2 separate regions of the Homo sapiens genome follow, and region 1 is linked to region 2. A link means that fine-mapping ties the variant in region 2 to the expression of a gene that starts in the linked region. Tissue or cell type: naive CD8 T cells. Region 2 holds a variant in brackets; the other region holds the start of a gene. All regions are shown on one strand. Distances are between the middles of the regions.

Region 1 (8,097 bases), 140 kb after region 2:
CTGTCTCAAAAAAAAGAAATATAGGGGGCTGGGCATGGTGGCTCACGCCTGTAATCCCAGCACTTGGGGAGGCAGAGGCGGGCGGATCACGAGGTCAGGAGATCAAGACCATCCTGGCCAAGATAGTGAAACCCCGTCTCTACTAAAAATACAAAAATTAGCTGGGCATGGCAGCACACACCTGTAGTCCCAGCTACTCGGGAGGCTGAGGCAGAAGAATTGCTTGAACCTGGGAGGTGGAGTTTGCAGTGAGCTGAGATCGTGCCACTGCACTCCCACCTGGGCGACAGAGCAAGACTGTCTCAGAAAAAAAAAAAAAATACAGGGAACAGGGAAGGGTAATAGAGCTCAGTGAGCATTCTGGTGGAAACCATCTCATCCCCTCCGGTCCCCAGCATAGAACCAAATAATCAATACTATTATTAAGGAGGATGATGTACATGATGTTCTAGGTTTAAGGACTCATTCATGTCCGCATGGAATCAATTCATATTCTTCACGGATCTTCTGGGGTCCACACAGATCTGAAAGGCTGCATGTACAAAGGGACAATGCCATAAGCCAAGACTTAAGAAATGATCCTCGTTCAGCTTTATCAGGGGCGTGCAGTACAAGCAAGTTTCTTCAGTGCCTTACTTTTGCTGTTTGAAAGAGGACACAAATGGCCGGGTGTGGTGGCTCACATCTGTAATCCCAGCACTTTGGGAGGCCAATCACTTGGGCCCAGGAGTTCAAGACCACCCTGGGCAACATGGTGAAACTCCCCAGGCATGATGGCACGTGCCTGTAGTCCCAGCTATGCCTCCCAGCTGACATGGGAGGATCCCCTGAGCCCGGGAGGTCGAGGCTGTGATGGGCCATGATCATGCCACTGCACTCCAGCCTGGGTGACAGAGTGATACCGTCTCAAAAAAAAAAAAAAAAAAAAAAAAAAAGACAAGACAAGGCAGAGAGCACAAGTGATCTATGTATCATAGGGTTATTCTGAGCATAATACAAAATTGCTAATGTAAGAATCCCACCAAGAATACGATTTACTATTCCAGATGAACCAAGCAAGGACATGTCAGGTCAAGGAGGAACTGGAAAGGAATAAGCACTGGAACTCTAGGGCTGGGGTCGGAGGCAAGAGTCAGGGGTCATGCAGGATCAAGTCTAGGGCACCTGGGCCATCACTGGCACCTGGAGATCTAGCTTGGTCAGCAGGGAGAAAAGGACTCAAGGAAATTACCCAAGAGACCAAGATGGAAAGAATAAGACACAGGAACAGAAAGAGACAAAGAGAAGAGACAGAGGGGAAAATGGTGATGGCAGCCTGGTCACAAGGGCCCCAGCCTAGACCTCTCCTGTCACAAACACCTGCTGCTCGCTCACTACCTTCCCCAGAGTGCCTGGCCCTCCCCTAGCCAGCCCTTCCTTCTCCACCCCTCCCCATCTTGCTTTCCCGAGGCTAAAACTCCCAAGATACATACACATTTCTCCAGCACAGCTGCCACAGTGGGAAAAAGCCAGGCTCCCTCAACCCTCACCCATCATTTCTGCTCCAAGCTCCTCACCCCATTCCATCCCCTAACTTTAACTCCTCACCCTTTCCATTTTCCTGTGGCAACAGTAGCCCAGGAAGTTTCACCTAGCCTCAACCTGGCCAAGTGCAAAAAATAAAATTAAAAATCCCACAAGAATTATGTGGCACTAATCCAACAAGCAGGCCAGCTCAGAGTTTGTGGGAGACCCAGGTCTGTCCCCTACCAGTGTCTCCCCATGAGTGTTTCTGTATCTACGAAGAAGCAACTAAAGAGTCTATCCCTATCCATTCCCTGCCCAGGTTGCAGGCCATTTCCCAGCCAGCTCTCCCACCTCTCTCCAGTCTTCAGACTGTAACTAGAGACAGTCCCAGCAAGTGGCAGCTGGGATTGCTGGGACCAAGGTTGGGGTGGGGGCAAAACCAAAGGGGGAGTCCTCCCCTCACCCCCACCCTATTCAATTCTGCAGAATCTGGGTTTAAACAAAAACCCTTGTCTCTATAGGCCTGGCTCCTAAGCCTGGTTCCCTCCTGACCAGAGGCCTGAGCTACCTTCCACTCAGGTACTCAGAAAAGTGGACTGCTACAACGAAGACCAGCGGGGACTAGGAGAAAACACCTGCGAACTCACCCGCCCCCACACCCCGCCAGCCACCTCCCTCTTGGGTGCCCCAGTGACTTAGAGGTCATCCGATGGCCACCCACCCAGAGCAGACAGTCGACCAAGCAAGCCGCCAAGCTCAAGCCAAGGAGGATCAGGCCTTCCTGCGACTGCTGAGCCCTGTCTCTAGGGCTCCTATCTCCCCCGCCCCCTTTCCCTCTGTGGTTCCCCAAAAGCCAAAGAGGCTGAACAGGAAGAGGCTGAACAGGCCCAGGTCGAGTGGGGGCTCCACTGACCTTTGCCCGGGCCCAAGGCCTGCAGCGCAGAGGAGGGCGAGGGGCTGGCGGCGATTAGGTTGAGGCCAAGCTGGGTAGCAGACGGAATTAAGTCCCTGCCATCTGCCGAGGGCTGGCGCGGGGAGCAAGTCCTGGGTTTCGAGGAGGGGGCGGGGTGTACACATGAGAAACTACAAGGGAAACTGAGGCGCGCGGCCCTTCTCTCACTCGCACCGGCGTGCGAAGCGAAGGCCGGGCCTCAGCCAGGCCAGGCCCTTTGGGAGCTGCTGCGCAGCACCTGGGGACCCAGGACTACACAGGATAGGGTGGGGAGCTGGAAAGAGGGGAGGAGAGAGGGGACGGTCTCTGCGCGACTCTCAGCTCTCTAGCTGGGGTCCGTCCCAACTCGGACCTCGTCCCCTCCCCTCCGGGCGCAGCGGAGCCTCCTCCCGCCGCGCACTCCCGGAGGCTCGCTAGAGACTGGAGACTGATCGGGGGGTGCGCAGGGGGCCGGGGGCGCAAGCCTGAGTCTTGCCCGGGCCCGGACGCTGACCCGCACCCAGTCGGGGTGCAGGTTCTGCTCCGGCCTGGCCCAGGTCCCCCGCCCCCATCCCCGGGAACGGACACCATTTTAGGTCGCGACATCCCGCAGCCTTCAATCTCCGGGCCGCACTTCGGGTGCCTCTCGAGCCGGGGGCGCCAGGACCTGGGGTTCTCGACCCTCCTGGGGGTTTACCCGGCTACGGACTGTGCTTACAACAGGCCAGGAGTTTCGCCCATCCGCCCCAATGGATGGAGGCGGTGTCTGGGCCTTCCTAGAAGCCGCCCCAGGGGGCGGCGCGGAGAAGGGGGTAGTTGACCAAGTGGGGGAGGGGCGGGGGTATTTACCCGCCCCCCCCAAGGGGGCGGAGCCAAGGGCGGGTATTTACCCCAGGCACGCTTACTTGTTCCGCTCCTGGTGCGGGCCGAGACCCGGCGGTCTCTACCCCGCTCCAGCCGCTGCAGCCACCGCCGCCCTCCCCGCGGCCGCCGCTACTTCCTGCTTCTCTCCGGTTCGGCCTCCCCACTCCCTCTCCTCCCTCCGCGCTCCAGGTCTGGGCTGCCCGTTTTCGCACTCGCCATTGGCCCTTGCCCCCGTCGCTCAGCCCTGTGCCCCTTCCAGCCCCGCACTGGGTTGGCCCTAAATACTGCCGCTCGGAACTAGCCCCGCACAGTCCTCTTATGCTCATTGGGCAAGGGGCCGAGGCCCTCTGAAGATACCTCTCCCCATTGGCTGCGCCGGGGTCCGTCTGCCCCATCTACGAGTCTCGTAAACGATTGGCCTCCGCCACTGTCGCTTAGAAAGAAGCCAGCCTGCTTCCCAGCTTGCCTACTGGAAGGGGGAGCACCCAGGTGCGTCTCCGCCCCTCGCTCCCTACTGGCCGCTCGAAGCTTGAAGCTGCAGTTCACTTTCGCGAATGTAAGGAACCCAGCTTCTGTGTGGTGGGCACTGAGAGCAGAACCGCATTGAGTCGGAGTGGAGCACAGAAGTGTAGGTCCTTTTGCGCTGTTTCAAGCTAAACCCGTGTCACTGATGCCGTACAGAAGTTACAGAATGGGACGCCACCCCAAACATTACGTCATCCGCTGACCATTTCCTTGCGGTCTTCCCACCGTCTAAATCGCCATATAATCTGATGGATGGGGTCCTCGCGCGGTTCAGCTCCTGGGCGACAGCGTAACCCGTCGCTCCTCCCTCTGCGGGAGGGCGTGGACGGGGCACGGGATTTGGAGCATGGAAGGAATCGGGACCTAAAGGTTGGGAAGGGCTCGCGGACCGGAAGCGGGGGAGGTGACGTAGGAGTGCTGGCGTGGCCGGGCCATTTCCAAAGAGGCATTAAAGGAGCAACTGATAGGCGTCCTAAGTATGGGCTGGGGGGGGAACCGCCAGCTCCATTTCCCATTTAAGGGCTCCCCTTTTCCCCGCCCCCAGCATGGAGTGGGGGTGGGGTCAAGGTCGAGTTTTCCCGCGCTTTGTTGCCACGCCCCCTGGAGGCGGGGGAAAGGGAGGAGTCGCTCGGAAAATGAATCTCCTTGATGCTCTAATAGCACTCACTGGCAGAATTCGTATGCAAGCCCAGTGTGCCACCTCGCGCACGCAGCCGCTCGTTAACGGCGTGTTTTTATTTTTTAATTAATTTTTTTGAGGCAGAGCCTCACTCTGCTGCCCAGGCGGGAGCACAGTGGCGCGATCACGGCTGACTGCAGCCTCAACCTCCCAGGCTCCAGTGATCCTCCCGCCTCAGCCTCCTGAGTAGCTGGGACTACAAGTGAGCGCCAAATCGCCCTGCTAACTTTTTTATTTTTTGAAGAGACAGGGTTTTGCCATGTTGCCCAGGCTGGTCTCAAGCAATCCTACAGACGTGAGCCACTACTCCCTACCTTGGCGAAGTTTTTTATTTTTTATTTTTTGAAACGGGGCCTCATTCTGTCGTCCAGACTGGAGTGCAGTGGCGGGATCTCGGCTCACGGCAACCTCCGTCTCCCAGGCTCAAGCAATTCTCCTGCCTCAGCCTTCCGACCAGCTGGGATTACAGGTGTGCGACACTACCCGCCCGGCTAATTTTTGTTTTTTTCTTTTTTTTTTTTTTTTGAGACGGAGTCTCGCTGTGTCGCCCAGGCTGGAGTGCAGTGGCGCGATCTCGGCTCACTGCAAGCTCCGCCTCCCGGGTTCACGCCATTCTCCTGCCTCAGCCTCCCGAGTAGCTGGGACTGCAGGCGCTCTCCACAATGCCCGGCTAATTTTTTGTGTTTTTAGTAGAGACGGGGTTTCACCGTGTTAGCCAGGATAGTCTTGATCTCCTGACCTCGTGATCCGCCCGCCTCGGCCTCCCAAAGTGCTGGGATTACAGGCATGAGCCACCGCGGCCGGCCATTTTTGTATTTTTAGTAGAGACGGGGTTTCACCGCATTGGCCAGGCTGGTCTCGAACTCCTGACCTCAAATCATCCATCCGCCTTGGCCTCCCAAAGTGCTGGGATTACAGATGTGACCCACCGGGCCCGGCAAAGTTTTTAAAAGTGGTTTCGTTACCCTGCCCAGGAGTCCCAGGACACCGGAACCAGGACTCCCCGGCGCACCCGGAGAGTTTCCGAGCTCCTTTGAAGTATGAATCAGAACTTCTGGATGGGAATCCTGGAGCCACCACTTGCCCTATGGTCGCAATGGGCAAGTCGCTCAACCTCCCAGATCCTGTTTTCTCATGAGTAAAACGGGGATTATAATACCCACCTGACAATATTATTTTTGTGAGAATTAAATGAGTTTAGAATGTAAACACGCTTTGTAAAGTAATTGGCAGTTGGGATTAGTGTGCCCTTTCTCCCGGAGCCTTGCATCCTGTGCATTTGCTCAGGTGCTGTTCCTTCTCTGAGCAACTAATTAAAGGTCCCTAACCCGATGTAACCAACCGGCATTCCATTTCCACCTCCTCTTCTGGTCTCCCTATGCGGAATAACAATTACTACTCATATACACATAATATTTTGGGGGGCTCACGCCTGTAATCCCAGCACTTTGAGAAGTCTAGGTGGGTAGCTCACTTGAGCCCTGGAGTTCGAGACTAGCCTGTGCAACACAGCAGGACTCTGCCTCTACAGAATATTTGGAAAAAAAAATTAGCCAGGGGTGTTGGCAGGCACCTGTGATCCCAGCTACTGGGGAGGCTGGGATGGAAGGATCGCTTGAGTCCAGGAAGTCAAAACTACAGTGAGCCGGGATCGCACCACTGCACTCCAACCTGGGAGACAGAGCGAGACTCTGTCTCAAAAAAAAAAAAAAAAAAAACACACACACACAGAAAAACTTTATTTATTTTATTAATAAACATATTATTAATAACTCACGTAGTCCTTACCACAACCATGGAAGGAGGTACTATTTCAGGTACTGGAGATGTAGCAATGAACAAAGCAGACAAGAAGCCCTGTCATGAAACACACATTCCTAAAGAGAAGACAAACAATAAATATTAGAAATGGTAGCTGCCAAGGAATAAAATAGAGTTATCAAGCCATGCAAAGACAGAGGAATCTTCGATGCATATGACTAAGTGAAAGAAGCCAATCTGAAAAGGTTGCATGCTGTATGATTCCAGCTATGTGACATTCTAGAAAAGGCAAAACTATAGAGAGTAAAAAGATCAGTGGTTGGTTGCTGAGGGTTCAGGTGGAGGGAGAGAGATGAATAAATAAATGGAGCACAGGGGACTCTTACAACACTGAAACTATTCTATGTGATACTGTAATAGTGGATACATGTGTCAACAGCCATGGAATGTACAACACAAAGAGTGAACCCTGTGAGCATGGTGGCTCACACATGTAATCCCTGAACTTTGGGAGGCCAAAGCGGGAGGATCAACAAAAAATTTGAAAAATTAGCCGCGTACAGTGGCGCACACCTGTAGTCCCAACTACTCAAGTGGCTGAAGCAGGAGAGTCCCTTGAGCCCAGAAGTTTGAGGCTGCAGTGAGCTACGATCCTGCTGCCGCACTCCAGCCTGGGCAACAAAGTGAGACCCTGTCTCTTAATAATAATGTTTCCATATTGGTTCATCAATTGTAACAAATGTACCACACTAATGCGAGATATTAATAAATAATAGAGTAACCTGAGCAACATGGAGAGACCCCATCTCTACAAAAAAACTTTTTTTTAAGTAGCGTGGCATGGTGGTGCACACCTGTGGTCCCAGCTACTTGGGAGGCTGAGGAGGGAGAATCACCTGAGCCCTGGAGGTCAAGGTTGCAGTGAGCTGTAATCACACCACTACACCCCAGCCTGGGCAAAAGACCAAGACCTTGTCTCAAAATAATAATAATAATAGGGGAAACTGGAGAGAGAGGATGTGTGGGAACTCGCATTTTGTGCTCAATTTTTCTGTAAACCTAAAAATGCTGTAAAAAATAAAGTGTATTAATTTAAAAACAAAAACAATTTAAAAAAAAAAACAAAGCAGGCGGCTGGGCGCAGTGGCTCATGCCTGTAATCCCAGCACTTTGGGAGGCCGAGGCGGGTGGACCATGAGGTCAGGAGATCAAGACCATTCTGGCTAACATGGTGAAACCCTGTCTCTACTAAAAATACAAAAAATTAGCTGGTCATGGTGGCACACGCCTATAGTCCCAGCTACTTGGGAGGCTGAGGCAGGAGAATCGCTTGAACCCGGGAGGCAGAAGTTGCATTGAGCCGAGATCGCACCACCACACTCCAGCCTGGGTGACAGAGCAAGACTCTGTCTCAAAAAAACAAAAACAAAAGCAAGGAAAGATGACAGTAAGTGTGGGAGGGTTGCAATTTTAGGTAGGGTGGACAGTAAAGGCCTTTTCGAGAAGATGGTGGTTAAGTAAAGGTCTGAAAGAGATGAGGGAGTGAGCCATGCAGCTATCTGGGACAAGAACATTCCAGGAGGAAAGAACAAGTACAAGGTCCTCAGGAGGGGAGTGTGTTCCAGAGGGGGTGGGAGGAGTGAATTGGGTCATGGGATGCTTTGGAAGCTATGGGAAGGTCTTTGGCATTTTCTCACGGTGGGTTAGAAAGCCATCAAAAGGAGACAGATGACATGGTGGCCTGACTTAAACGTTTTAAAAGGGTTGAAAGTGGGGTGTGGAAGAAAGAAAAAGACTCCAAAGCATGGAGGCTGAGGAAGTAGAAGCATGA
Region 2 (8,103 bases):
CACTCCAGCCTGGATGACAGAGCGAGTCTCTGTCTCAAAACAAAAGAAAACAATAAGAATATCTGTTATATCATTTAACTGAGAGATACAGAAATGGATGCTTCAGCCTAGAATTTGACTGCCCTGCTGGTTTTCAACAATTCTCTTGTCTCTGGCTCATAGCAGGGTGGCTGTATAAGTGTCAGGCACTATGTCCAGATAAAAAATTGTTAGACAAAGAAGAGATCTTATCTTCCCATCTTTCTTTCTTGAATCTGTTTTCTTATGAGTGAGAATTGCTTTCCTTTTATATCTCTTTGACCATTTATTGGCAAGGGAAGTGGGATTGACATTAATGGCTTACAGTAACACTAGGCAGTAGAAATACGCAAGCTTCATGAGTAATTTTAATTTTTTTCACTTTAAATACAGTAGCGCTCCCTTATCCTCAATTTTTCTTTCTTGAATCTGTTTTCTTATGAGTGAGAATTGCTTTCCTTTTATATCTCTGACCATTTATTGGCAAGGGAAGTGGGATTGACATTAATGGCTTACAGTAACACTAGGCAGTAGAAATATGCAAGCTTCATGAGTAATTTTAATTTTTTTCACTTTAAATACAGTAGCGCTCCCTTATCCTCAATTTTAGTCTCAATCACAGTCCAAAACTAGGTGAGTGCAGTACAATAAGATTATTGAGAGAGACACCACATTCACATAACTTTTATTACAGTATATTGTTATAATTATCCTTTTATATATTATATATTTTTAATTGTTAATCTCTTTGCCTAATTTATAAATTAAACTTTATCATAGGTATATATATATATATATATGAAAAAACACGGTATGTATAGGGTTCAATACTATCTGAGGTTTCATGTATGCACTGGGGGTCTTGGAACGTATATTTCCCATTGGCAAAGGGCGTCTACTGTAAAGTTTAAAAAAACAGGCAAAATTAATTTTAACAGCATATTTTATTCAGTATATTAAAAATATTTCAACATGAACTCAAAATTTAAAATTAATGAGATATTCGTCATTCTTTTTTCCTCCATTAAAAAACAGATCTTTTGAAATACAAATCTAAATTGGGTTTGAGCTTACCACATTTTAAGTGTTCACTAGATACATGTTGCTGGTGCCACCATATTAGACAGTGAAACTTTGGACTAATCATTTGGGAGTAGAATGTATATTAGAATCAACCGGGCCAGGTGCAGTGGTTCACACCTGTAATCTCAGCACTTTGAGAGGCCGAGGCAGGCAGATTGAGCTTAGGAGTTCAAGACCAGCCTGGGCAGCATGGAGAAACCCCGTCTCTACAAAAAAAATACAAAAATTGGGTGTGGTGGCGCACGCCTATAGTCGTAGCTACTCAGGAGGTAGAGGTGGGAGGATTGCTTGAGCCCAGTAGGTCAAGGCTAGAGTGAACCATGATCACGCCACTGCACTCCAGCTTGGATAACAGAGCAAGACTCTGTCTCAAAAAACAAAGAATCAATGGTAACACTGCAGTGTAGTGCCAGGGTAGCCAGCTTGGTCTAGAATAGGACTCACGATTCTTCACTGTCAGTAATGTGAAGCCAGAGTAACTCATCCATACCTCTTAGTGAAAACACCAGTTTTTTGAGACAACAGGGTCTTGCTCTGCCACCCAGGCTGGGGTGCAGTGACGCAATCTTAGCTCACTGCAGCCTCGAACCCCTGGGCTCAAGCAGTCCTCCCACCTCAGCCTCCTGAGTAGCTGGGACTGTAGGCATATGCCACCACACCCAGCTAATTTATTCCTTTTCTTGGGGGTAGAGACAGGGTCTTGCTGTGTTGCCCAGTCTGGGCACCTAACTCATTTTTACGCGTAATATGGGGGGTGGGTTTTGTTATTCCGAAGTTCCACAAATAATAAAATTACACAGAGGGAAGATAAGTTTTTCCTTATGGAAAAGAAACAATGTAGACCCTCATTGATCTTTTTTCTCTTGGTTTCCCTGACTTAATTTTTGAGTCTCTTATGACAAGATTTTATGCTTACCAAAATCACCTTTCCTTAGCATATATCAATTTTATTCTTGCAGTCTTTCGTAATTTCCTTTTTTGCACCCTTGACAGATCTGGCATGAAAGTAGTTTTTTTTTTTTTTTTTTTTTTTTTTTGAGACAGGGTCTCACTCTGTTAGCCAAGCTGGAGTGCAGTGGCACAATCTTGGCTTACTGCAATCTCCACTTCCCAGGCTAAGATGATCCTCCCAACTCAGCCTCCTGAATAGCTGGTACTACAGACACATGCCACTATGCCCAGCTAATTTTGGGGGGTTTTTTGTTTTGGGGGGTGTTTTTTGTAGAGATAGGGTTTTGCCATGCTGCCCAGGCTGGTCTCAAATTATTGAGCTCGAGCAATCCACCCACCTCAGCCTCAAAGTGCTGTGATTACTGGTGTGAGCCACCGTGCTCAGCTTTTTTTTTGGGAGACAATCGCTCTGTCACCTAGGCTGGAGTGCAGTGGCGCAGTCTTGGCTCTCTGCAACCTCTACCTCCTAGGTTCAAGCAATTATTGTGCCTCAGTCTCCCAAGTTCCTGGGATTACATGCATGTGCCACCATGCCCAGTTAATTTTTTTGTTTGTTTATTTTTAGTAGAGATGGGGTTTCGCCGTGTCGTTCAGGCTGGTCTCAAACTCCTGGCCTTAAATGATATACCTGCATCGGCCTCCCAAAGTGCTGGGATTATAGGCATGAGCCAGCATGCCCGGTCGAAAGTAACTTTTTTTCTTTTTTTCTTTTTTTTTTTTTTTTTTTTTTGAGACAGAGCTTCATTCTTTCACCCATGCTGGAGTACGGTGGCACAATCTCAGCTCACTACAACCTCCACCTTCTGGTTTCAAGCGATTCTCCTGCCTCAGCTTCCCAAGTAGCTGGGATTACAGGCGCCCACCACCATGCCCGGCTAATTTTTTGTATTTTTAGTAGAGACGGGGTTTCAGCATGTTAGCCAGGCTGGTCTCAAACTCCTGACCTCGTGATCCACCCACCTTAGCTTCCCAAAGTGCTAGGATTACAGGCATGAGCCACCGTGCCCAGCCCAAAAGTAGCTTTTTCAAAAAAAAGAATTGATGCATAATAGGTGTACATGGTTTAGGGATGCATGTGATAATCTAATATACATTTATATAATCTGTAAATATTAAATCAGTGTACTTGGAATATTCATCACTCTATGTGTTTATGCTAGAAACATTCAAATTATTCTCTTCTAGCTATTTTAAAATTTACAACAGGTTATTGTAAACTATAGTCACCCTACTGATCTACTAGGTCTTATTTCTTCTTTCAAACCATATATTTGTACCTGTTGATCAGCTTCTCTTCAACTCTCTACTCCCCTACTCTTCCCAGCCTCTGGTAACCACCATTCTACTCTCTCTCCATGAGATCTACTTTTTTTTTTAGCTCCCACATATGAGTGGGAACATGTGATATTTGTCTTTTTGTGCTTGGCTTACTTCACTTAGGGACTTCCAGTTCTAACCATGTGCTGCATGACAGAATTTCATTCTTTTTTGTGGCTATAATATTCCACTGGGTATATATACCACATCTTTTTTTTTTTTGAGAAGGAGTCTTGCTATGTCGCTCAGGCTGAGGTGCGGTAGTGCAATCTTGGCTCACCACAACCTCCACCTCCTGGGTTAAAGTGATTCTCCTGCCTTAGCCTCCTGAGTAGCTGGGATTACAGGCACACGCCACCACGCCCGGCTAATTTTTTTGTATTTTTTAGTGGAGACGGGGTTTTACCATGTTGGTCAGGCTGGTCTCAAACTCCTGACCTCATGAGCCACTGTGCCCAGCCACCACATCTTCTTTATTCATTCATCTGTTGGTGGGCACTTAGGTTGATTCTATATTTTGCCTATTGTGAACTGTGCAGCAATAAACATGGGAGTGCAGATACCTTTTCAAAAAGTAGCTTATTTTTACATGCTAATATTTTGGGGGATTTTTTTCCTTTTATTTTCTGAATTGTTTGTTAATTGTAGACATCATGATATTTTTCTCCTAAATATTTTAATATGTAGCTCTAAAAAATAAGGCCTTTTGTGTGTGTGTGTGTGTGTGTGTGTGTGTGTGTGTGTGTGTG[G/TGG]CCACAGTACCTTTGTTAAGATCTAATAGGCCGGCGCAGTGGCTCACGCCTGTACTCCCAGCACTTTGGGAGGCTGAGGCGGACGGATCACCTAAGGTCAGAAGTTCAAGACCAGCCTGGCCAACGTGGTGAAACCCTGTCTGTACTAAAAATACAAAAAATTAGTTGGGCATGGTGGTGCACACTTGTAATCCCAGCTGCTTGGGAAGCTGAGGCAGGAGAATTGCTTGAACCCGGGAGGCGGAGGTTGCAGTAAGCTGAGATCACACCATTGCACTACAGCTTGGGCAGCAAGAGTGAAACGCTGTCTCAAAAAAAAAAAAAGAGGGCCGGGCGCGGAGCCTCATGCATGTAATCCCAGCACTTTGGGAGGCCGAGGCGGGTGGATCACGAGGTCAGGATATCGAGACCATCCCAGACAACATGGTGAAACTCCATCTCTACTAAAATACAAAAAGTTAGCCGTGTGTGGTGGCACGCGCCTCTAATCCCAGCTATTCGGGAGGCTTAGGCAGGAGAATTACTTGAACCCGGGAGGCGAAGGTTGCAGTGAGCTGAGATCGCACCATTGCACTCCACCCTGGCGACAGAGCAAGACTCCGTCTCAAAAAAAAAAAAAAGATCTAACAGAATTAATCAGAAATCCTTAATAACATTCAATACCTACTTTATTTAAAAATTTTCTGAGTTGTCCCCAGAATATCAGTGGATCATTATATTTAATTGTGATAACAGTATCATCTTAATAACATTACAGGCCAAGGCATGGTGACTCATGCCTCTAATCCTAGCACTTTGGGAGGCCAAGGCGTGAGGATTGCTTGAGCCCAGGAGTTTGAGAACAGCCTGGCGAATATAGTGAGACCTTATCTCTCTCTGTTTTTGTATTTTTTTTTAATTAGCCAGGTGTGGTGGCTTGTGCCTGTAGCCCCAGCTGCTCAAGAGGCTGAGGTGGGAGGATTGTTTGAGCCCAGCAAGTCGAGCCAGCAGTGAGATATGATCACACCACTGCTCTCCAGCCTGGGTGACAGAGTAAGGCCCTATCTCAAAAAAAAAAAAAAAACCCAAAAAGTAGTATTACATTTTTATTCACACTTGTTTAAGAGCAGTGCAGTGACTTGAAGGAGCTTGTATGGCCCTAGGGTTCTTTTCATAAGTTTGTCTAATGCTGATTCTTAGTCTTTTTTGAGACAGAATCTCACCCTGTCACACAGGCTGGAATGCAGTGACGCAATCACAGCTCAGTGCAACTTAAGCCTCCTGGGTTCAGGCAGTTCTCCTGCCTCATCCTTCCAAGTAGCTGGGACTACAGGCATGTTGGCCAGGCTGGTCTCTAACTCCTAGCCTCAAGTGAGCCACCCGCTTTGGCCTCCCAGAGTGCTGGGATTACAGGCGTGAGCCACCGCACTCTGTCTGATTCATAGTCTTTTTTTTTTTCTTTTCTTTCTTTTTCTTTTTTTTTTTTTTTTTTTTTTTTTGAGATGGAGTTTCACTCTTGTCACCCAGGCTGGTGTGTGCAGTGGCACAGTCTCAGCTCACTGCAACCTCCGCGTCACAGGTTCAAGCAATTCTTCTGCCTCAGCCTCCCGAGTAGCTGGGATTACAGGCGTGCACCACCACACCCGGCTAATTTTTGTATTAGAGGCGGGGTTTCGCCATGTTGGCCAGGCTGGTCTTGAACTCCTGACTTCAGATGATCCGCCTGCCTCTGCCTCCCAAAGCTCTGAGATTACAGGCGTGAGCCAGTGCACCCGGCCCTGATTCATAGTCTTTTAATATTTATGTCTAATACAGAAATCTTAACCTGCTTGGTGGTGAGGTGTCCTGTGAGCCCCTTGAAATTACATATAAACTTTGCCTGTGTGTGTGCATTTTTCAAGGGAGAGGTTGCATAGCTTTTGTTAGTGTGAGATTTGGGACTAAAAAATGGTTAAGACTGTTAGTTATTATTCCTGTTTTCCATAGTGGCTATCTTAAGGTACATTTCTTCAAATATTCTTTTTTTTTTTTTTTTTTTTGAGACGGAGTCTCGCTCTTTTGCCCAGGCTGGAGTGCAGTGGTGCGATCTCGGCTCACTGCAAGCTCTGTCTCCTGGGTTCACGCCATTCTTCTGCCTCAGCCTCCCGAGTAGCTGGGACTACAGGCACCCACCACCACGCCCGGCTAATTTTTTTGCATTTTTAGTAGAGACGGGGTTTCATCGTGTTAGCCAGGATAGAATGGTCTCGATCTCCTGAACTCGTGATCCACCGGCCTCGGCCTCCCAAAGTGCTGGGATTACAGGCGTGAGCCACCACACCCGGCCCATTTCTTCAAATATTATAACATTTTTCTTCCTGGCATTGTTACCTCCACTTCCTGAGCATCTCATTAAAGGTAACAGATGTAGGTTATTCTAATCTTTCAAAAAATCTTGTGTTAGTGGAAAGGAGAAAGTTTGAGGAAGAAATAGGATTGAGAGAAGGATGCTTTAAGGAGCTTAACCATGTTTAGGAGTCGGAGCCTGTCGGGGTTGGGGAAGATTGAAGACAGGGAAAACAAATTGACAAAATCTTGGAATACATGGCATGATGAGGTTGGATGAGCCTTAGGAAGGTACAAGAGATCTATCCTTCCATAATTTGGAAAACAAGCAGCAGAAGTTACAGTTGTTCATGCCTATTTCCTCAAAGTAGGAGATTGTGTTAGGTGTTAAGGAGGGTGATGGTGCTCAGAGGGACAGTTAGGACAGCCACCATGGAGAATCAATTCATTTTCCCTCTTGAATCTTTTTCTGTATTAGCTCCTTCCCCTGTAGAACTGATGTGTCAAAGGTTACCAGAGATCTCTTAAATCCCCTTATATTTGAGTTCCTACCTCACTAGTTTTCTTGAGATAACACAATGTAAATCTTTTTTTTCTTTTTTTTGAGGGAGTTTCGCTCTTGTTGCCCAGGCTGGAGTGTAGTGGCGCCATCTTGGCTCACCGCAGCCTCTGCCTCCCAGCTTCAAGCGATTCTCTTGCCTCAGCCTCCCAAGTAGCTGGGACTACAGACATGCATTACTGTGCCCGGCTGATTTTGTATTTTTAGTAGAGACAGGGTTTCTCCATGTTGGTCAGGCTTGTCTTGAACTCCCAACCTCAGGTGATCCGCCTGCCTTGGCCTCCCAAAGTGTTGGGATTACAGGCATGAGCCACCGTGCCCAGCCAACACATGTAAATCTTAACCTGATGCTTGTACATTAGAAATTGCTTAATAAGTGTTTTTATTATTGATGTTGCATGACAGCTGTGAAAATAGAGCTGATAAATAGGTTATAGGAGAAAGAGTGAATGAGATTGCCCAGGGAAAACATAGACTAAGAAAGGCCTGGACAAAATATTGCTTAAAGGTGTTCTAGAAGAGAAAAATGAGAGAGGTAAACAAATCGGGGGGTGAGTGGAAAAGAGATAATATCGTTATGTTGCTAGTTAACTGTTTCCCAAACATGTGGTTAACTTTCATACCTACTTGCCTTTCCTCCTGCTTTTCTCTTGGTCCTCTCTCTGGCTGGCTGAGCCCCATTCTTTGACAATTCAGCTTTTATATGTTGTTATAGCTTTTCCTCATTCCTTTATGCAGAATTTCTTATTTATCCATGTCCTCATAGCACCTAATGTACCTGTAGACAGTGTTTCTAAATGGAGTTGCAGACCTCTTTGAGAATAAATATGAAATGTTTGAATCCTCTTCCTAGAAAAATCTACATTTTACTCTTTTGCAAATAATTTCAGAGAAAGCCTGGATTCCTAGAGGCCTGTTCCATAGACCCCAGATTAAGAACCCCTGGCTTTTGTTTGTTTGTTTTACTTTAAAAAATTACTTGGCTAGGCACAGTGGCTCATACCTGTAATTCTGGTACTTTGGGAGGCTGAGATGGGAGGATTGCTTGAGCTTGGGAGGTCAGGGTTGCAGTGAGCCATGATTGAGCCACTGCGCTCTAGCGTGCGAGACAGAACGAGACTC

Direction of the effects. Positions count from the first base shown, and alleles are read on the strand shown. Sizes are in standard deviations (SD) of each study's normalised expression.
As copies of G replace TGG in region 2, the expression in naive CD8 T cells of the gene that starts at base 3,439 in region 1 goes up (large effect, 1.2 SD a copy in Schmiedel 2018).

The links. PIP is the estimated chance that this variant, and not a neighbour inherited with it, causes the effect.
Region 1: it holds the start of ZNF687, and the variant in region 2 is fine-mapped to the expression of ZNF687 in naive CD8 T cells (Schmiedel 2018, PIP 0.95).

Annotation. Positions count from the first base shown.
Region 1 is chr1:151,277,641-151,285,737 of GRCh38, reverse strand. It overlaps ZNF687 (zinc finger protein 687), which reads right to left and starts at 3,439. Exons shown (of 9, transcript NM_020832.3): 1 at 3,343-3,439. ZNF687-AS1 (ZNF687 antisense RNA 1) reads left to right here and starts at 3,809. Exons shown (of 2, transcript NR_135595.1): 1 at 3,809-4,195; 2 at 5,480-5,714. RefSeq lists enhancers at 2,328-2,397, 2,706-3,591, 3,638-3,867, 3,898-4,097, 3,592-4,476 and silencers at 2,818-2,977, 3,258-3,537, 4,219-4,559.
Region 2 is chr1:151,413,704-151,421,806 of GRCh38, reverse strand. All of the region lies in intron 10 of POGZ (pogo transposable element derived with ZNF domain), which reads left to right. Among named protein-coding and RNA genes, the nearest start is that of PSMB4, 18 kb to the right of the region's middle. The variant G/TGG (reference allele first, on the strand shown) is at 4,119.